Linked DNA regions of Homo sapiens: regions 2, 3, 4 and 5 are each linked to region 1. Evidence: fine-mapped expression QTL. A gene starts in region 1. Each other region holds a variant in brackets. All regions are shown on one strand. Distances are from middle to middle.

The links. PIP is the estimated chance that this variant, and not a neighbour inherited with it, causes the effect. A credible set is the group of variants that fine-mapping cannot tell apart.
Region 2: its variant is the best candidate, but not a certain one, in a credible set for the expression of PIEZO1 in whole blood (INTERVAL, PIP 0.55).
Region 3: its variant is the best candidate, but not a certain one, in a credible set for the expression of PIEZO1 in stomach (GTEx, PIP 0.87).
Region 4: its variant is the best candidate, but not a certain one, in a credible set for the expression of PIEZO1 in whole blood (INTERVAL, PIP 0.67).
Region 5: its variant is the best candidate, but not a certain one, in a credible set for the expression of PIEZO1 in left ventricle (GTEx, PIP 0.50).

Annotation. Positions count from the first base shown.
Region 1 is chr16:88,782,869-88,786,868 of GRCh38, reverse strand. PIEZO1 (piezo type mechanosensitive ion channel component 1 (Er blood group)) reads left to right here and starts at 1,649. Exons shown (of 51, transcript NM_001142864.4): 1 at 1,649-1,968. The coding sequence starts at 1,905. RefSeq lists silencers at 1,151-1,480, 1,521-2,000, 2,501-2,820 and an enhancer at 1,505-2,418.
Region 2 is chr16:88,555,220-88,559,420 of GRCh38, reverse strand. No RefSeq gene overlaps it. Among named protein-coding and RNA genes, the nearest start is that of ZC3H18-DT, 4.7 kb to the left of the region's middle. The variant T/A (reference allele first, on the strand shown) is at 2,130.
Region 3 is chr16:88,720,400-88,724,399 of GRCh38, reverse strand. It overlaps PIEZO1 (piezo type mechanosensitive ion channel component 1 (Er blood group)), which reads left to right. Exons shown (of 51, transcript NM_001142864.4): 31 at 429-529; 32 at 1,072-1,174; 33 at 1,249-1,305; 34 at 1,391-1,563; 35 at 1,711-1,817; 36 at 2,003-2,182; 37 at 2,334-2,592; 38 at 2,674-2,862; 39 at 2,970-3,234; 40 at 3,652-3,784; 41 at 3,868-4,000. Among named protein-coding and RNA genes, the nearest start is that of MIR4722, 6.1 kb to the right of the region's middle. The variant T/C (reference allele first, on the strand shown) is at 1,874.
Region 4 is chr16:88,754,815-88,758,814 of GRCh38, reverse strand. All of the region lies in intron 1 of PIEZO1 (piezo type mechanosensitive ion channel component 1 (Er blood group)), which reads left to right. Among named protein-coding and RNA genes, the nearest start is that of PIEZO1-AS1, 14 kb to the right of the region's middle. The variant C/T (reference allele first, on the strand shown) is at 1,558.
Region 5 is chr16:88,728,749-88,732,748 of GRCh38, reverse strand. PIEZO1 (piezo type mechanosensitive ion channel component 1 (Er blood group)) reads left to right here. Exons shown (of 51, transcript NM_001142864.4): 20 at 17-142; 21 at 214-414; 22 at 839-1,043. HSALR1 (HSP90AB1 associated lncRNA 1) reads right to left here and starts at 1,569. Exons shown (of 3, transcript NR_103774.1): 1 at 1,301-1,569. The variant C/A (reference allele first, on the strand shown) is at 2,260.

The DNA.
Region 1 (4,000 bases):
AGTGCTGGGATTACAGGCGTGAGCCACCGCACCCGGCCTATATCAGCCTTTAAACACTAGACTTCCCATGAAAATCTCCATTTCTGGGTGGTTTTTTTTTTTTTAATGGAGTTTCGTTCTTGTCACTCAGGCTGGAGTGCAATGGCATGATCTCGGCTCACGGCAACCTCTGCCTCCCAGGTTCAAGCGATTTTCCTGCCTCGGCCTCCTGAGTAGTTGGGAATACAGGCGCCTGCCATCACGCCCGGCTAATTTTTGTATATTTATTTATTTATTTATTTATTTATTTATTTATTTATTGAGACGGAGTCTGGCTCTGTCGCCCAGGCTGGAGTGCAGTGGCGCTATCTCGGCTCACTGCAAGCTCCGCCTCCTGGGTTGATGCCATTCTCCTGCCTCAGCCTCCCGAGTAGTTGGGACTACAGGAGCCCGCCACCACGCCCGGCTAATTTTTTATGTTTTTAGTAGAGATGGGTTTTCACCGTGTTAGCCAGGATGGTCTCGATCTCCTGACCTGGTGATCCACCCGCCTCGGCCTCCCAAAGTGCTGGGATTACAGGCGTGAGCCACCGCGCCCGGCCTAATTTTTGTATTTTTAGTAGAGACGGGGTTTCACCATGTTGGCCAGGCTGGTCTCGAACTCCTGACGTCAAGTGATCCCCCGACCCCCTACCCCCTTGCCTCAGCCCCGCAAAGTGCTGGGATTACAGGCCTGAGCCACTGCCCCGCCATCTTTTTTTTTTTTTTTTTTTTTTGAGCTGGAGGGTGTGGGCTTGTGCTGGGCTCTCATGAGTTGCCAGTGCCTTGAGGCTCAGTGGCCACAGTCCCCCCAGCCCCACTCCCTGCCTTACGCAGCTGAGTTTGAGAGCCATGAACTGAGCCCAATTAAACGGTGTAGAGCCCTTTGCCCTCTTTCTGTGCCCATCTCAAGGGCAGACGAAGGCCAAACTGACGTGGCCTGGGTGAGGGTCCCGAACACCCTGGACTCAGACCCTACCTCTCCGTGGCAGGGCGCCGCGGCAGCAGGTGCACAGGCCGTGGCTCTCACTCTCACCGTCTCACGCCAGAGCGACCCGGGCAAAGCCGCGCGCGGTGGCCGGCGTGGCTGGGAGCAGCCCCCGAGCCCCCGTCAGACCAACGCGGATCGCGGCACTGCTGCGACCCGAGCATCCCGCGTGCTCCCTCCGGGACCACTAGGCCCGGCCGCCGCGGGAACTCCGAGCCTCCCCACGGTCCCCAGGGGGCGCTGCGTGCTCGCGCCTCGGGGAGCAAAGCGAAAGTCGCTCGGGCACGCGGGGTGCAGTTGCGCGTGGGGCGCTGCCTGGGGGAGCCAGAGGCCCCGGGACCCCTTATGTAGCGCCCGGGCCCCAGCCGCAGCCCACCCAGCGAGAAGCGCCCCTGCCCACCGCCGCGCACGCTCGGAGCCGCGGGGCCAAGACTGCGGGAGGGGAGGGGTCCGCTCCGGGCCAGCGCCAGTCGGGGGTCTCCAGGCCCCAACGCACCAGGGCGGGCCGGAGGCGGGACGGGCCGCGCGGGACAGCGGAGGGGGTGCCTGGGCGCGCCGGGCCGTCGGGGAAGCGCGGAGGCGGGCACGCCGGGGAGGGCGGGAGGGGGCCGAGCTTATAAAGGCCCGCGGGCGGAGGAGGGCGGGAGCCGCCGTCCGGCCCAGCTCGGCCCCAGTGAGCCGAGCGCTGCGCTCCGCCGAGGGGCAGGGCGGTCGCCTGAGCGAGCGCGGGCCCGGGACGTCGGCACCGGCGGGGCGGCCGAAGGAGAAGGAGGAAGAGGAGAAGGCGGCGCGCGGGTCCCCGCGGGTCAGCCATGGCGCGCCGGCCCCGGGGCCCCCGCACCGCCCCATAGCGCCGCGGCGTCCGCTCGGTCTGGGCCGGGCCCTGGGCCCTCCAGCCATGGAGCCGCACGTGCTCGGCGCGGTCCTGTACTGGCTGCTGCTGCCCTGCGCGCTGCTGGCTGGTGAGTGGGGGGCGGGCGCCTGGGGGCGACGGGAGGGGGCTGCGTCTCGGCTCCCCACGGCCTGGACACCGGACGACGCCGGCCGGGGCGAGGGCTGCGGGCGAGCGGGCGCGGAAATTCCCAGGGACGCGCGACCCGGGCGCCCGCATTCCTGAAGCATGAGCGCGCCAGGCGGCGGCGGGGCTCCTGTCCCAGGGCCGGGCTGGAAGGGCGGCGGCGGCTGGGGGAGACGGCACCGCGTGCCCACGGGGGCGGTCGAGCGAGCGCCGGGCATAGCGCGGCTGGCGTCTCCGCCGGGGCGCTGCGGAGAGGAGGCCGCCGGGCGAGGCGGTGTTTGCCCCGGTGGGAAGGGCCGCGGCGGTGGTGGGGGGAGCACGAATCTCTTTTTCTCTTTCGGGTTTAAAAAAAAAAGCGCAAAGTTGCATCAGGACTTCCTGACAATCTGGGAGAAGGCGGGCTTCCTGCCTGGAGCTGTTTAATTTGGAGCTTCCCGAGCCCAACGAACGTCCGTGCCCAGGGCCCAGCCCCGCTCACCGCTGCACCCCCCTCTGCCGGACTGAGGCGGTCCCACACTTTGGAAAAAAATAGTGTGGGTTCCTCCCTGGTCCTCCCTTGCCCTACTGGGCTCAGTTTCGCAGGGGCGGGGGCCGGCCTCTGCCCTGGTCTGGGGGAGGGGACACCCCCGGAGGCTGTGGCCTGGTGTCAGGGCGGGGCAGGGGTCCCCAGTCCTGGCATCTGTGTTCCCTGCTTGCCGGGCAGTGGTGCCCCTTTCGCGAAGCACACCCGGGTGGCTTGGTGCTGCACGGCCTGGCACCCCTACCCTTCCCCGACCCTGGCCTAGCCGGGACCCAGGGTCCGCGCCCTCCGCCCGGGGGCTCCCCACGTGTGATTGATCTGGGAAGCAGTCGGATGGAATTAACCCACGGACAAGTGGGACGGTTTGCATTGGGAGTCCGCCATGGACACGGCAGGTGGGGCCTTTTGATTGTAAAAGCCCTTTCGGAGCCCTTGCCTCGCTCCAGGTGGGAGCTCGCCCAGCGCTAGCTTTGGGGATCTAGAGCCGCCTGCCTGAGGCTCCCAGACAGACTGCGTTTTGATCGGTCGCACAGAAAGGTGGTGAAACTTGGGGAAGATTTTCTAGACAGGAATCAATGAAAACCATTGAGGCTGGAGAGGAGAGGTTTTGAGCAACTCTCTTCAGTGCGGTCAGCCCTGTGTGGACTGGGCAGCCTGGGACCTGCTCCCAGTGCAGGGTCAGATGGGCCGTAAACAGGGCCCGGCTGTGTTCCTTCCTGTGCCTTGAAAACAAGCAGGACAGCCTGGCACAGAGGCAGAGTCTAGAGCTGACAGGCCTTAGAGAGGGAAACAGGAAAGCTTCTGAAACGTCCCGTTCACACTGATCGTTCCATTTCCTCTTGTGTCTGAGTGGGAGCGGGTGTCCTCCCTGCAGGGAATGCCCCCCCTCTCAGATGGCAGCTGCTCCTTGGGCAGAGTTGGCAATGTTTTTCTTTAAATGACCAGATGGTAAATATTTTCATGTCACAAAATCTTCTTCTTCTGGTATTTTTCCAGCCATTAAATGTAAAAGCCCTCCTGAGTTCATGGGCTGTACCTAAACAGGTGTTGAGCCCGATTCTGTGGCACATGTGGTTTGCTGCCCCCTGGGCATTGGTCAGGGGGCCTGGGTTCTGCCTTCTCGATTGCTATCCGCGTGGGGGATCTGGGGGAGGGATCACTGTTCTTCTTGCTTTTGGCCTCCTTGGGGAGGATGGGGAGGTAGCCCAGGGGTGCTCACCCAGGCCCCGTGTCAGTCTTCTATGAAACTTTTAAAGAATAGTGATGACTGACTGTCTGTCTGTATGGTACTTTCCTTAAACCTAAAACTGGTCCCAAATAAAGTCTCTTAATTTGAAAGATGCTGAAGCCCGGGCCATACCCCACACTGATTCTGTGTCTGGGGATGGGGCGTGGGGCCTGGGCCTCACTCAGTGTTTTCTCTCAGTCACCTGGGGGAGATGGAAGTGGAGCCGGC
Region 2 (4,201 bases), 230 kb after region 1:
AAAAAAAAGGGCAGGGAACACCAGGGGGCCCAGGGGAGTCAAGGTGCCTGTGAGTGTCCCCAGCAGCCCACCTCTCCTCCCCTCCCCCCAGCCTGCAGGCCCCGGAAGCACAGGGCTGTGCCCTGGAGAAGTCTGGAGTGACTTTTAAAACACAGATATGGGGACCCATCCGATTCTGAGTTTCTGGCCAACAGCGCTCCGTGTGGTTCAGAAGTTGTATTGTTTCAGGACGGAAGCAAAGTCCAGCTAACAGCTGTCAAGGGCTGGCCTCTTGCTGGGGCCTTGGGCCCGACTTTCTCCTTTGCTCCTCCCAAAGGCGCTGGGAAGCAGGGTGCTGATGGTAAAAAATGAAGCTCAGAGAGTTTCAGTGCCGAACTCAACATTGCACGACCAGGCACAGGAGGGCACGGGACTCACAGCTCCGGAGCTTGAGGGGACGCGGGACTCACAGCACCGGAGCACGGGAGGGCATGGGACTCACACTCCCAGAGAACGGGAAGACAGGGGACTCACACCCCCAGAGAATGGGAGGACACGGGACTCACACCACCATAGCACAGGAGGGCATGGGACTTACAGCGCTGGTCCATGGGAGACGCGGGACTCACACCCCCAGAGAATGGGAGGATGCAGGACTCACACCCCCAGAGTACAGGGGGACATGGGACTCACACCCCTGGAGCATGGGGGGATGCGGGACTCACACCCCCAGGGAACGGGAGGATGCGGGACTCACACCACCAGGGAACGGGAGGATGCCTGACTCACACCCCCAGGGAACGGGAGGACGCAGGACTCACACCCCCAGAGCACGGGGGGAACGCGGGACTCACCCCCCCGGAGCACCGGGGGACGCGGGACTCACCCCCCCGGAGCACGGGGGGACGCGGGACTCACCCCCCCGGAGCACGGGGGGACGCGGGACTCACCCCCCCGGAGCACGGGGGGACGGGCGACTCACCCCCCGACGGGGGGATGCGCGACTCACACCCCCGGAGCATGGGGGGACGCGGGACTCACCGCACATCTTTAACTCCTAATCCCATCTGCTGGGGAGGCTGCGGCAGGATGAACGCTTGAACCCAGGAGGCAGAGGTTGCAGTGAGCTGAGATCGCGCCACTGCACTCCAGCCTGGGCGACAGAGCGAGACTCTTTTGTCATTTCCCTTTTTACTCAATGGCTACTTTGGTTTTTCTTTTCTTTTTTTTTTTTGAGATGGAGAGCTGGAGTGCAGTGGCACGATCTCTGCTCACTTGAACCTCCGCCTTTTATGTATTTTCAGTAGAGAGAGGTCTAGAAGGCTCAGCTGCAGCCGCCTGCCCCGCAGGGCATTCCTGGCCCAGAAAGGGTAAAATCAGACTCTAAACTCATTCAGCTGAGTGGCTTGTCCTGGGTCTGCTGTAACAAGTGACACCAATGGGCGGCTTAAAGCCACAGAAGCTGGCTGGGCACAGTGGCTACACCTGCAATCCCAGCACTTGGGAGGCTGAAGCGGGAGGATTGCTTGAAGCCAGGAGTTCAAGTCCTGGCTGGGCAGCATAGTGATACCCCCATCTCTAAAAAAAGATGGTGCACGCCTGTAGTTCCAGCTACTCTGGAGGCTGAGGTGGGAGGCTTGCTTCAGCCCAGGAGGTCGAGGCTACAGTGAGCCGTGATTGCACCACTGTCTCAAACGACAACAATAGTGACAACAAAAACACTCAGAAACATATCGCCTCACAGTTCCGTAGGCCAGATGTCTGATAGCAGAGTCATGAAGTGGAACTCGAGGCACGGGCAGGGCTGCAGGCTGCAGGGAAGGCTCCCCACGGCCTCTTCCAGGTTCCCAGGCCTCAGGCATCCGTGGCTCCCGTGCCTTGAGGCTGCATAGCTCCTGCTCTGCCTCTGTGGTCCCACGCCTCTCCTCTTCCATCTGTGTCCAATCTCCCTCTGCCTCCCTCTCAGGAGAACTCATGATCACGTCGGGTCTGTCCAGATGCCTTCTTTCTCTCCATCTTTAACTCAATCATGTCTGCAAAGACCTTTCTTCCATTCTTCCACATACAGTCACGTTCACAGGGTTAGGGTTAGGGACATGGATGTCTTTTTTTTTTTTGAGACGGAGTCTTGCCTGTGACCCAGGCTGGAG[T/A]GCAGTGGTGTGATCTCGGCTCACTGCAAGCTCCGCCTCCCGGGTTCACGCCATTCTCCTACCTCAGCCTCCCAAGTAGCTGGGACTACAGGCGCCTGCCACCACGCCCAGCTAATTTTTTGTATTTTTAGTGGAGACAGGGTTTCACTGTGTTAGCCAGGATGGTTTCGATCTCCTGACCTTGTGATCTGCCCGCCTCGGCCTCCCAAAGTGCTGGGATTACAGGCTTGAGCCACCACGCCCGGCCAGGGCACCCAGCCATTTTCAGTGGCCACATCACGTGTGAGTGAGGGGACCAGTTTCTGAGCGGGGACCCTGGTTTCTGAGCCCCCGTGGTGTGCTCAGTCCTTGTGAGGTTATGGTGAGGTAAGAATAGTGGCCCCCAGCGTGGAGCCTGTTTCCATTTCTCTTTTTCTCCTTCTAAGGCAGTACAGGCGGCCCAGCTGTGCCCTCCCGAGCAGGTGAGGCTGGCTGAACCCTCTGGGTTTTCCATCCTTGCCTGTAAGTAGAGCTGAAAACAGCACTTTCGCCCAGGTGCTAGGAAACGAGATGCTGTGTGTAAAGTGACTGGTGGCTGCCTGGCCTGGTGGTAAAGGTCCCGGAAATGGGTGACTGTGTGAGTCCAGGCTCACACTGCTCTAAAGAACTACTGGAGACTGGGTCATTTATGAAGAAAGAGGTTTAATTGGCTCACAGTTCCACAGGCTGTGTAGGAAGCATGGCTGGGAGTCCTCAGGAAACTCACAATCATGGTGGAAGGTGAAGGGGAAGCAGGCACGTCCTCACATGGCGGCAGGAGAGAGAGAGAGAAAGTGGGGGGCGGGGGAAGTGCCGCATAGTTTAAAACCATCAGATCTCGTGAGAACTCACTATCTGAGAATAGTGAGGGGGAAATCCACCCCCGTGATCCAGTCACCTCCCACCAGGCCCCTCCCCTAACCTTGGGAATGACAATTCGACATGAGATCTGGATGGGGACACAGAGCCAAACCACATCAGTGGCTTTAGGGAGATCTGAGTAGCAATGAAGGCATGGCCCGCTTGGGAGAAAGTGTCTGCAGGAAGCGCCTTGTGAATTCTGCGGTGCTCACCATGGGCTGGGCGGGTTTTCAGTGGGGGCAGCAGGGCCTTGGAGATGGGGCCACACTCTGGGGAACCCTTTGGGTCGGGGAGTGAGCCCCGCTCTGTCTAGACATAGGCAGTCCCAGCACAGCAGAGGGCGGTCCTTAGGTCCGGAAGGGGGCACAGTCAGGCGCGAATTCTGGGCCCTGAGCTGGGGCCATCATCTCCTCCCGAGAGAGAGCACAGGTGCCATTGCAGGTGCTGCTAGGGTGCTGCGTGCCCTCCGAGCTTGGCGACGCTCCACTGAGCTGTGTGAGTCTCCGTCCTGGGCTCCGTGGAGACCAGGATGATAATAAGATGAGGACCAGTGGCTTCCAGGAGCCCCAGTCTTAGAGGTGGAGACAAAGAGCTGTGGAGGGGCTGGGGGTGGAGAGGAGCCAGGGGGTGGGCAGAGGGGGTGGGGATGGGGCGGGAGGCATGGAAGGGGCAGGGGAGAGACGAAGGGCCACTGGAGCCACATTAAGACAGAGGGGAAGTGTTAAGACTTGGAGCTGAAAATGCTGGGAATTAAGCGGAAATTCTGCTAAAAGTTTATGGTAACACACTGGGATGGGGGCCGGGTGCAATGGCTCATGCCTGTAATCCCAGCACTTTGGGAGGCTGAGGCAGGCAGATCACTTGAGGTCAAGAGTTCAAGACCAGCCTGGCCAACATGGCGAAACCCTGTCTCTACTTAAAACAAAAAATTAGCTGAGTGTGGTGGTATGCGCCTGTAATCCCAGCTACTTGGGAGACTGAGGCAGGAGGATCGCTTGAACCCTGGAGGCGGAGGTTGGAGTGAGCCGAGATCGCCTCACTGCACTGCAGCCTGGGTGACAAGAGTGAAACTCTATCAAAAAAAAAAAAAAAAGAAAGCCAAAAATGCTGAGAATTAAGGCAAAATTCTGCTAAAAGGTTATGATAACACCTGGGATGGGAAAGGTCAGGCGTGCAGGATGAGGCCCGAGGGA
Region 3 (4,000 bases), 62 kb after region 1:
GCCACCACGCCCAGCTAATTTTCGTATTTTTAGTAGAGATGGGGTTTCACCATATTGGCCAGGCTGGTCTCGAACCTCTGACTTCAGGTGATCCGCCCGCCTCAGCCTCCCACAGTGCTGGGATTACAGGCGTCAGCCACCGTGCCCGGCCTGTTCTGTTTTTCTAACTCTCACACAGCCTCCTGGGTTTTCCCCGGTCCTCTGCAGTCGGCCCACTCTGCACCCCAGCCCGCGCTGGCTCTGCTCCTCAGCTGCCCTGCCCACCTCTGTCTTGTCCCACCGCGCTGGCCTGTGTCTTGTGCCTGCACTGCTCCCGGCTACTCCGCATGGGAAGGGTGGCTCTCGGGCCTTGGCCCATGCAGGCGGAGGGGGTCTGGCTGGGAGTCTCCCTGCATGGAAGGCTGGCTCTCAGTGCTGCCTGCCCACAGTCATCCACTCCGGGGACTACTTCCTGTTTGAGTCCGACAGTGAGGAAGAGGAGGAGGCTGTTCCTGAAGACCCGAGGCCGTCGGCACAGAGTGCCTTCCAGGTGAGGTGGGAGAGCCCCGTCGGCCCCACTCCAACCACAGAGCTTGTGGTCCTGGACCAGGGCAGCATAGAGGGTGTCAGATGCCCCCAGGGCCTGGGAGCCGAGCTCCTCCACCTCCAGTTAGCCCACCCCGCCCCATCCAGGCCTCCCAAGTCCCATGGGAAACCAGGCTACAGGGACATGGGTCATGTGTAGCCTGCTGCCCCACGGTCTTGGCTCTGACCACCCAGGTTCTGGTGGCTGCCCGTGGCCTGACCTGTGAGACCGGCCCAACACCTTTGTGCTGGCCGCCTGGCTGTCCTGGGTCCATCTTTGGGCCCCTGGCTCTTGGTGTTAGACCAGCCCACCCAACTCCTGAATGGGTGGGAGTCTTCCCCCACAGCCCCTCAGGGTCCCCATCCGGGAGGGGCTCAGGGACACGGAGGTCCCTGGGAGACACAGAGCAGGGATCTGGATCTGGCGCCCGGCTTGCCCAACCCCAGCTTCCCGCCTGGGTCTGATGGCTCGGGAGGCCGGGTCCTAACCCGGGGGCTGGCCGACAGCTGGCGTACCAGGCATGGGTGACCAACGCCCAGGCGGTGCTGAGGCGGCGGCAGCAGGAGCAGGAGCAGGCAAGGCAGGAACAGGCAGGACAGCTACCCACAGGTGAGCTGGGGGGCGTGGGGACTCTGAGGGGAAGCCGCGGGACTGCCAGTCACTCACCAGCATCCTGTGCCCAGGAGGTGGTCCCAGCCAGGAGGTGGAGCCAGCAGAGGGCCCCGAGGAGGCAGCGGCAGGTACGTGGGCCCGGGGCTGGGGAGTGGGAGGTCTCTCTTGGCCCCACAGGCTGCCCCTCCAGCGCCCCCTCCCGCCCTCCCGCAGGCCGGAGCCATGTGGTGCAGAGGGTGCTGAGCACGGCGCAGTTCCTGTGGATGCTGGGGCAGGCGCTAGTGGATGAGCTGACACGCTGGCTGCAGGAGTTCACCCGGCACCACGGCACCATGAGCGACGTGCTGCGGGCAGAGCGCTACCTCCTCACACAGGAGCTCCTGCAGGTGAGCCTGCCCGTGCACCACGCTCGTCCCTGCTCTGCCTGACTACGCCCCTGCCTGCTTAACAGCCTAGTCCCGCGCCCACTGCACGAAACCCCGTGTGGGGACAAGAGCTGGACGCAGCCCTGAGCCCCCTGCTGTGCCCTGCAGGGCGGCGAAGTGCACAGGGGCGTGCTGGATCAGCTGTACACAAGCCAGGCCGAGGCCACGCTGCCAGGCCCCACCGAGGCCCCCAATGCCCCAAGCACCGTGTCCAGGTAGGTGCGGGGGTGACCCGAGCCCCAGCTGCTGCCCCTGGTGTGTGGGCATCGCC[T/C]AGCCATCCCCGACCCTCGCCATTCCCTTGTACCCCAAAGGACCGTGGGCACTTTCCACCCTGACCCTCCCTGTAGCCTGGGGTCAGGCCATAGAGCAGGATTCTCTGTGACTCGGCTTCCCTCCCCAGTGGGCTGGGCGCGGAGGAGCCACTCAGCAGCATGACAGACGACATGGGCAGCCCCCTGAGCACCGGCTACCACACGCGCAGTGGCAGTGAGGAGGCAGTCACCGACCCCGGGGAGCGTGAGGCTGGTGCCTCTCTGTACCAGGGACTGATGCGGACGGCCAGCGAGCTGCTCCTGGACAGGTGGGGGCGGGACGCGCACAACACCAGCCTCACCATGGCCCTCGGGGAGCAGCCGAACAGGGGCAGGAGACTGACTGTGACCGGCAACAGATCGGGCCGTCATGCCTTCGGGCAGTCCCAGACTCCCCCAAACACGCGGGTCTCCCTGTAGGCGCCTGCGCATCCCAGAGCTGGAGGAGGCAGAGCTGTTTGCGGAGGGGCAGGGCCGGGCGCTGCGGCTGCTGCGGGCCGTGTACCAGTGTGTGGCCGCCCACTCGGAGCTGCTCTGCTACTTCATCATCATCCTCAACCACATGGTCACGGCCTCCGCCGGCTCGCTGGTGCTGCCCGTGCTCGTCTTCCTGTGGGCCATGCTGTCGATCCCGAGGCCCAGCAAGCGCTTCTGGATGACGGCCATCGTCTTCACCGAGGTGGGCCGAGGCCGCGGGGGAGGGGGCGCCCGGCCCACCGCGCCGTGACCCTCCCCGCGTGCTGAGCCCCCTCCCCCACAGATCGCGGTGGTCGTCAAGTACCTGTTCCAGTTTGGGTTCTTCCCCTGGAACAGCCACGTGGTGCTGCGGCGCTACGAGAACAAGCCCTACTTCCCGCCCCGCATCCTGGGCCTGGAGAAGACTGACGGCTACATCAAGTACGACCTGGTGCAGCTCATGGCCCTTTTCTTCCACCGCTCCCAGCTGCTGGTGAGTGTGAGCCTTGGCTGGCAATGCGGGGCTGGGCAGGCCCTCTGGGCACCTGTGCTCTCCACCAGGGAGGCAAGGCCCCCTCACCACACCCTCCCGCCCCTCAGTGCTATGGCCTCTGGGACCATGAGGAGGACTCACCATCCAAGGAGCATGACAAGAGCGGCGAGGAGGAGCAGGGAGCCGAGGAGGGGCCAGGGGTGCCTGCGGCCACCACCGAAGACCACATTCAGGTGGAAGCCAGGGTCGGACCCACGGACGGGACCCCAGAACCCCAAGTGGAGCTCAGGCCCCGTGATACGAGGCGCATCAGTCTACGTTTTAGAAGAAGGAAGAAGGAGGGCCCAGCACGGAAAGGAGCGGCAGCCATCGGTATAAGCGCCCTGCCTCACAACCTCCTGCCTACCCAGTTTTCTGAGTGGGGCTACTGCAGGGAGGGTCTTTCTCAGATGAGACGGCCAAGCCCAGTGCGAGGCCCACCTGGATCCCAGGAAGGTGCCACTTCTGAGCCACAGCTCCCGGCTCTGCCTACAGAGCCGTCCCTGACTGCTGCCCCCGGGGATGCTCCCCACGTGTAGGGTGACTGTTGGCCTGGGCTGGCCCCTCACAGTTGCCCCAGACAGAGGACACAGCCCCAGCTGTCTCCTTGCCAGTGACACTGGGAGCTTTCCTGTGCTCCGTCTGCTTGTCTGTCAAACAGGGAGAATGCCAGCCTCTTAGGGTGGTCAGGAGCCATGAGCCAGGCCCAGTCCCCAGGGGGCCCAGGCAGAAGTCAGCTTTTCCCTACAGAAGCTGAGGACAGGGAGGAAGAAGAGGGGGAGGAAGAGAAAGAGGCCCCCACGGGGAGAGAGAAGAGGCCAAGCCGCTCTGGAGGAAGAGTAAGGGCGGCCGGGCGGCGGCTGCAGGGCTTCTGCCTGTCCCTGTGAGTGATGGCGGCCGGGGGCAGCTGGGGAGTGGGGGTGGGGAGGCGGGTACTGGGCCCAGGCTGAGCGCCCCCTTCCGCAGGGCCCAGGGCACATATCGGCCGCTACGGCGCTTCTTCCACGACATCCTGCACACCAAGTACCGCGCAGCCACCGACGTCTATGCCCTCATGTTCCTGGCTGATGTTGTCGACTTCATCATCATCATTTTTGGC
Region 4 (4,000 bases), 28 kb after region 1:
GACAATCCTGTGAGGAGGGAGTTATGGTTCTTGATTTATAGACGAACAAACTAAGACAGAGGAGATTGGGCTCATCTGTGGTCATCTCAGCAGTTGTGAGAGGTCAGGGCCAGAGCCCAGTGGTGTCATTCTGCAGGGCACATACAGACACGACCCACAGGGTTCTGCCGCACCCCCTGCCGCTTGGCCTGCTCTGCAGGTGGGTGCCGAGGCTGTTCCTGCATCTGCTGTGTCTTGTGAGTCCGTGGGTGCCTGTGGAGTGGGGGCAGTGGGTTTGCATTTCCAAGCACTGCCTCTGTCATAGGCTCAGGGAGAAGCAGTTACGCATGAGCTGCTATGAGCCACGGGTATGACTGGCATCACAGCAGGAGGAGCCCTGGGGATGGCTGAGTGACGATGGGTGGGGACAGAGCTCACAGAAGCCAGGGTTGCCCCCAGGCCAGGCCACTGCTGGGGCCAAGGCTGGGATGCAGCACGATGTTGGTCTGTCAGGGAGTGGCAGGAAGCCCACAGGGTCAGCTGACACTTAACCCAGAGTGGTGGGAGCCTTGAATGCCAGACTGAGGGCCACACAGTTGGTCTCGGTGCACAAGGACTTGGGCTGAGAGGGCTGTTGCTCCTCAATGGCCATCTCCTTGTGGGAGGAGAGTCCGGGCAGCCGCTTCCAGGAACCCACCCATGCTTGAAATAGTGGGACCACAGGGCTGAGGAGGCTCCTGGGGATTCCTCCCAGGATTCAGCTGCTCTGTCCCCAACCCCGGAGGGCCTATTCGTCTAGCCCTATATCCTCTCTGCCAGTTAGGTCAGGGCAGAGAAGTAGAGGCACAGAGGGTGGCGGAGGGGTGTCCAGCCAGGCCTTTCTGTGGCACCTTCTGAGGCTGGCTGGAGTCTGTGAAATCTGTGATAACTGGCCCAGACCCTTCCTGCCTCCTGGGGCATCTGCTGGAGCTGAGGCTGCTGGGGGAGTCTGCCTGTGACTTGAGTCTCTTGCTGGGCCATGCTGGGCTCAGTTCGCCTGTCTGTGGGGTGGGATGGTGCCACCCTTAGGTTGTTGGGAGGACCCAAGGAGAGTGATGCCTCCAGCCATGGCAGCTGGCCCAGCTCCGGCCCGCAGCCTGGCTCCTTCAGGGCCAGGAACCCCCAGGTCATGGACTCCAACCCTCGGGCTCTCCTGCTTCCCAGGTGACGAAGCTTCAACCCATGGGCTCTCCTTCCTGGGTGTGGAAGCCCTGGAGAAGGTGGAGATGGGATCTCAGTCCAGCCCATTGGCTCCACTTCCTTTGAGAAGCTCTTTCCCCCGTCTTGGCCCCCAGCCCTTGTTCAAGCACCTGTCCCTCTCCTGTCTCCTAGGCCCCGTCAGTCCTTTTGGAGACCTGTTCCCACCCGCCCCTGCTCTCACAGGCTGCCAGTGTCCACACACTCTCAGGCACTGTCATTGGAGCCTTTTAACCACACGGGAAAGCAGGCAGGTTAGGTAACTACCCCCCACCCCCCCGCCAGCAACGCCCCCTGCATACCCAGGGCCTGCACCAGGTGCTGCTGCGCTGCCAGCTCTCT[C/T]GAGGTCCCTCCTCCTAACCTCAATGCATCGCGTCTTCCAGCCCCCGGCTCCGAGGGCTCAGCCTCCAGGTGGTCTAACCTGGAGTCTAAACCTGGATTGCCATCTGCCTGCCTCAGCCCTTCCCTTCCCCAGGGACCGAGGGCCAGTGCGGCTCCCCAGCCACCCATTTTTTGTTTGTTTTGAGACGGAGTCTCGCTCTGTCGCCCAGGCTGGAGTGCAGTGTCCTGATCTCGGCTCACTGCAAGCTCCATCTCCTGGGTTCACGCCATTCTCCTGCCTCAGCCCCCCAAGTAGCTGGGACTACAGGTGCCCGCCACCACACCCGGCTACTTTTTTGTATTTTTAGTAGAGACAGGGTTTCACCATGTTGGCCAGGATGGTCTCGATCTCCTGACCTTCTGATCTGCCCGCCTCGGCCTCCCAAAGTGCTGGGATTACAGGCATGAGCCACTGCACCTGGCTTGTTTGTTTTTATTTTTATTGTTTTTTGAGACGGAATCTTGCTCTATTGCCCAGGCTGGAGTGCAGTGACATAATCTCAGCTCACTGCAACCTCCACCTCCCAGGTTCAAGCGATTCTCTTGCCTCAGCCTCCCAAGTAGCTGGGACTACAGGCACCCACCACCACACCCAGATACATTTTGTATTTTTAGTAGAGATGGGGTTTCACCATGTTGGCCAGGCTGGTTTCGAACTCCTGACCATGAGATGGCGGGCTTGAGCCATCTTCCCGCCTCGGCCTCCCAAAGTGCTGGGATTACAGGCGTGAGCCACGGTGCCCGGCCCCAGCCACCAGTTTTGTACAGCACTCAGGTGGGTGTGGTTCCTGAGGACATGTCACACGAGATCCTTCCGGTCCATTAGCCCACCCCGCCCCATCAGTGGCCAGTGCGGCCATTGTGGGGTCCAGAGTCCCGAGGCAGAACGACTGACTCCAGGTTGTGGAGGGGCCTCTTAGGATCCTTCTAGGCACCCAGGTTGGGCAGGTGCCTCCATGCCTAAGACTGAGCTCCTGGTGGACATCGGGCTGGGTGTGGGCGTCCTGCACACCCTCCCTGTGGCCTGGTGCCCGTGAGGAGTGGACAGTCACCCCGAGAGCATAGACCACCCTCGAGGCTCCCAGATGGCGGCCGCAGAGCCCCACTTCCCTGCCTGGTGTGTGATACCTTCCATGGCTGAGGACACCTCTGACTGCTCACTCCTGTGACCCTGGACCCAAGTGCTGGGCCACACCTGGACTCCAGGCCCCAGTCCTTCCTTCTTCTGCTGTCCTGGCTCCTGGGTGGCCCCCGCCCTCCCCGCTCCGAGGCTCTGCCCTGTGCTGGGAACCCAGGAATTGCCACCCCCTGGCCCCGGTTTCTCATGTCAGGATCTGCTGGCCAGGTTGACTCCTGAGCGCCACTGTCTCCTCAGACTTGCTGGTCCCACCCGGTCCCCACCTGTCCACCGCCCGAGGCTCTCCTGTGAGGCCGCTCTGCAGCTCTTGGCCTGGGGGCCCCCGGCCTCTCATGGTGCCTTCTGCACTGTCCCCTTTGGAGATGGGAGCTTTGAGGGTAGGCGCCACCGTTCGGTGAAAAGGCGGTATAAGCAAAGCAACCCCCAGATACTGAAGGAGCCGGGAAATAAAAGGAGGCAGACAGAGCAAGTGTGTTGGTACCCGCCTATTTACTGGCAGGAACTTACAGACGGAAACATGGCCTCAGGCAGCCTCCAGGCAGGTAGAGCTCTGAACCCAAACGCCCGATCTGGGGCTCGTATCGTGCCCTGGGAGGAATGTGCAGGTGGCTGGGAACGTGGCGGGTGGGGTGGCCAGATTCCTGCTGCAGCACCGGGTTTGTTTAGGAAGAAACGTACGAGGACTAGACACTCTTTTTTTTCTTTCCTGCACGTGAATGCCAGGGAGTAGGTGCTCCTGCAGGAAGATGATGCATCAACCAGCCAGTCTGGAGGCATTCCGAGACCCGGGGTTAATCAGCAGATTAGCATTTAAATAAAGTTACTCTGTCCCCACAGCCAGCTAGGCCCGAGCCACATGGCGGGGGCGGCGGGGGCGGCTGTTCGCCGCATCCCAGGCTTGCTCCATCTCCTCGTCTGCAATGTGGAGGTGACAGTCGTGGTCCTCGGCTAGTGCCACAGGACTGTACGGGACAGATCACCCAGCCCCGTGCCTGCACTGGGGGCGGCGGTGACGTGATGGCCGCGGCGGTGACCTGATGGCCGCAGGTGTGTCCACCCTCTGGTTAGGCCTCTCCTCTCCCTGGGGCGCAACAGGTGTCCTCGGGTGGGAGGTTCAGCTGCTGGGCCTGGGGCCCCAGCTTTCAGCTCCTGTGCAGGCGTGGAGCGGGACGGCACGCCGGGGCGTTCGTTCACACGATGCCCCCAGCTCGTCTCTGCCTGCTCTGTGATGCAGCCTCAGCTCCTGTGGGTCCCGGGTCACCCACC
Region 5 (4,000 bases), 54 kb after region 1:
CCTGGCCTCTTGCCAGCCCTTCCCCAACAGCACCAACTTGCTGCCCACGGAGATCAGCCAGTCCCTGCTGTACCGGGGGCCCGTGGACCCTGCCAACTGGTTTGGGGTGCGGAAAGGGTTCCCCAACCTGGGCTACATCCAGGTGAGTTGAAGGGCTGGTGGGCGGCTGGGCGGGCGAGTACCCGGCTGCCCCCTGACCCTTGCCCTCCGCAGAACCACCTGCAAGTGCTGCTGCTGCTGGTATTCGAGGCCATCGTGTACCGGCGCCAGGAGCACTACCGCCGGCAGCACCAGCTGGCCCCGCTGCCTGCCCAGGCCGTGTTTGCCAGCGGCACCCGCCAGCAGCTGGACCAGGATCTGCTCGGCTGCCTCAAGTACTTCATCAACTTCTTCTTCTACAAATTCGGGCTGGAGGTGAGGCAAGGACATTGCCTCCCCCTGGGGCAGGGCTTGGCCTTCGGGAGGGAGGGACGGCTGCACCGTGCAGGCACCGCAAGCCTGGCCCCACCTGGGTTTGCCTGGGCCACAGAGGGTGGGGGACTCAGGGCCAGGCACGGCTTCCCTGGACTCCTGTGGTGTGTCGGTGCTGACAACAGGCAGGGGGCCAAGTTAGATCTGCTCTACTGTACAGCCCACCTCCTGGAGCCTCAGTTTCCCCTGCACGATGGCAACTGCCAGCCACTCCTGCCCTCTTGACAGCGCCGCTGGCCCTGTCCTTGCTTGATGCCCGCAGCCTCCAGGCAGGGCTGCTGCAAGCCTGAGGCCTGCTGGGTGGGACAAGAAAGTCCCTCCCCCCAGACTCAGTGCATCCCCACACCCCGCCCTCTCCCCTCCCCAGATCTGCTTCCTGATGGCCGTGAACGTGATCGGGCAGCGCATGAACTTTCTGGTGACCCTGCACGGTTGCTGGCTGGTGGCCATCCTCACCCGCAGGCACCGCCAGGCCATTGCCCGCCTCTGGCCCAACTACTGCCTCTTCCTGGCGCTGTTCCTGCTGTACCAGTACCTGCTGTGCCTGGGGATGCCCCCGGCCCTGTGCATTGGTGAGGGGCACGTGGCTTGGGTGGGAGTGGGCTTTGTGGCTTTGTGGATGCCCGTGGGGGTGTTTCCCGCCTGCCCCAGACTCCTGTCCACCCTCCTAGACTTAGCCTTGGCCTCCTCCAGTCCCTCCTCTCTGCTCCACATCCTACCCAGGCGCCATCACCTGCATCCTGTCTCTCGGGGGCGGCCTGGCCCCCTCCAGGCTCTGCTGTTCTCTTTTCCTTTTTTGCCCAGTATTCTATCTTGAAATATTTCAAACCTTCAGGAAAGTTGTGAGTCACACAAGGAGCACTGCGTCCTCTCCGGGCCCCGTGCGGGTCGGCCGTGATGCCTCACACCCAAGTGCTGCCTCGAGCATGCGTCTCCTGGGTGAGGGTGTCTGAGCCCACAGCCCCACACCCGTGGTCCCGTCTCCTGGCAGTGCCATCGTCAAACGTGTCCTCTGCATTCAAACAGCCCCGGCCTCAGCACCCTTCTTTGTGGCCATTTGGTTTTCAGACGGGATCTGGTCTGATGTTTGCTCTAGTCTCTTGTCTTGGGTCTAAGCCGCCCCCGCCTCTCCTGTCTCTTGGGAAGTTCCGGAGGGAGGCCGGTAGCGTTGCTGACGCCGTGAGACTGGATTTGCGTGGCTGTCCTGGTGCTGCAGGTCTGCTCAAGGCACACAGCACCCTGCGGTCTGAGATGGGGAGTCACATTTGTGCACGTGGCCGGCTCAGGGGCGTCCCACCTGCCCCACAGTGGCACCCAGCCTGTTGGCACTGGTGGGCTGTGTGGGGTCAGCCTTGTGGTTTTACGAAACAGACTTTCTCTCTGCTGTCTCTGTGTGTCTGTCAGCTGGGATTCCCATCAAGGACAGCTGCCATTTGTTACTGGCTGCTTTCCAAGAATTCTGTCATCCGCAGACCCTGGGCCTCCCCTCTGCTGAGTGGGTCCTGGCCCCTCCGGCCACACACTGTTACATCATCTCCCCGTATTTGGCTGGGCATGGTGGTTCACGCCTGTGATGCCAGCACTTTGGGAGGCTGAGGCAGGAGCATCCCTTGAGGCCAGGAGTTTGAAACCACTCTGGTCAACATAGCAAGAACCCTTTTTTTTTTTTTTTTTTTTTTTGAGATGGAGTCTTGCTCTGTCACCCAGGCTGGAGTACACTGGCACAATCTCGGCTCACTGCAGCCTCCGCCTCCCGGGTTCAAGCAATTCTCCTGTCTCAGCCTCCCT[C/A]GTGGCTAGGATTACAGGCAAGCACCACCAGGCCCGGCTAATTTTTGTATTTTTAGTAGAGACGGGGTTTCACCATCTTGGCCAGGCTGGTCTTGAACTCCTGACCTCAGGTGATCCACCCGCCTCCCAAATTACAGGCCTCCCTCCTGGGATTACAGGCGTGAGCTGCCACGCCCGGCCCCGTCTTGTTTTCTGCTCCCAGGCGCTGCTGCCTCATCTTCTGCTACCCAGGCCCAGCCTTGTGCTCACAGCCATTGCTCCAGGGAGCCCAATCGAGTTCTAGGAGCGTGAGGTTTAGAGCCCGGGGTCTGGGCGCTGGGTGTGCCTGTTGCTACAGGGCTGCCTCAGCCTCTGGGCCCTCCAGCTCTTCCTTGTTGAAACATCTGCTTTCGAGCATCACCGAGGCCAGCTCCCCGTCTCCTGTCCACCTCTTCCTTGTTGAAATACCTGCTATCAAGCGTCACCTAGGCCAGCTCCCCTTCTTCTGCCTCCTTCCACGCGGCTGCGCCATGCAGTCGCCATCCTGTGAGATCAGCATGTCCTGGGTTCCCCAACATCGAGGGTAACTTTGTTTTTGTATCGTGAGGTTCCCTCTGTGGCAGATGGGGCTGTGGGTTCAGCATGTCCTGGGTTCCCCAGCATCGAGGGTCACTTTGTTTTTGGGTCGCGAGGTTCCCTCTGTGGCAGATGGGGCTGTGGGTTCAGCATGTCCTGGGTTCCCCAGCATCGAGGGTCACTTTGTTTTTGTGTCGCGAGGTTCCCTCTGTGGCAGATGGGGCTGTGGGTTCAGCATGTCCTGGGTTCCCCAGCATCGAGGGTCACTTTGTTTTTGGGTCGCGAGGTTCCCTCTGTGGCAGATGGGGGCTGTGGGTTCAGAATGTCCTGGGTTCCCCAGCATCGAGGGTCACTTTGTTTTTGGGTCACGAGGTTCCCTCTGTGGCAGATGGGGCTGTGGGTTCAGCATGTCCTGGGTTCCCCAGCATCGAGGGTCACTTTGTTTTTGTGTCGCGAGGTTCCCTCTGTGGCAGATGGGGCTGTGAGATCAGCATGTCCTGGGTTCCCCAACATCGAGGGTCACTTTGTTTTTGGGTCGCGAGGTTCCCTCTGTGGCAGATGGGGCTGTGGGTTCAGCATGTCCTGGGTTCCCCAGCATCGAGGGTCACTTTGTTTTTGGGTCGCGAGGTTCCCTCTGTGGCAGATGGGGCTGTGGGTTCAGCATGTCCTGGGTTCCCCAGCATCGAGGGTCACTTTGTTTTTGGGTCGCGAGGTTCCCTCTGTGGCAGATGGGGCTGTGGGTTCAGAATGTCCTGGGTTCCCCAGCATCGAGGGTCACTTTGTTTTTGGGTCGCGAGGTTCCCTCTGTGGCAGATGGGGCTGTGGGTTCAGCATGTCCTGGGTTCCCCAGCATCGAGGGTCACTTTGTTTTTGGGTCACGAGGTTCCCTCTGTGGCAGATGGGGCTGTGGGTTCAGCATGTCCTGGGTTCCCCAACATCGAGGGTCACTTTGTTTTTGGGTCGCGAGGTTCCCTCTGTGGCAGATGGGGCTGTGAGTTCAGCATGTCCTGGGTTCCCCAGCATGGAGGGTCACTTTGTTTTTGTGTCGCAAGGTTCCCTCTGTGGCAGATGGGGCTGTGAGTTCAGCATGTCCTGGGTTCCCCAGCATGGAGGGTCACTTTGTTTTTGTGTCGCGAGGTTCCCTCTGTGGCAGATGGGGCTGTGAGTTCAGCATGTCCTGGGTTCC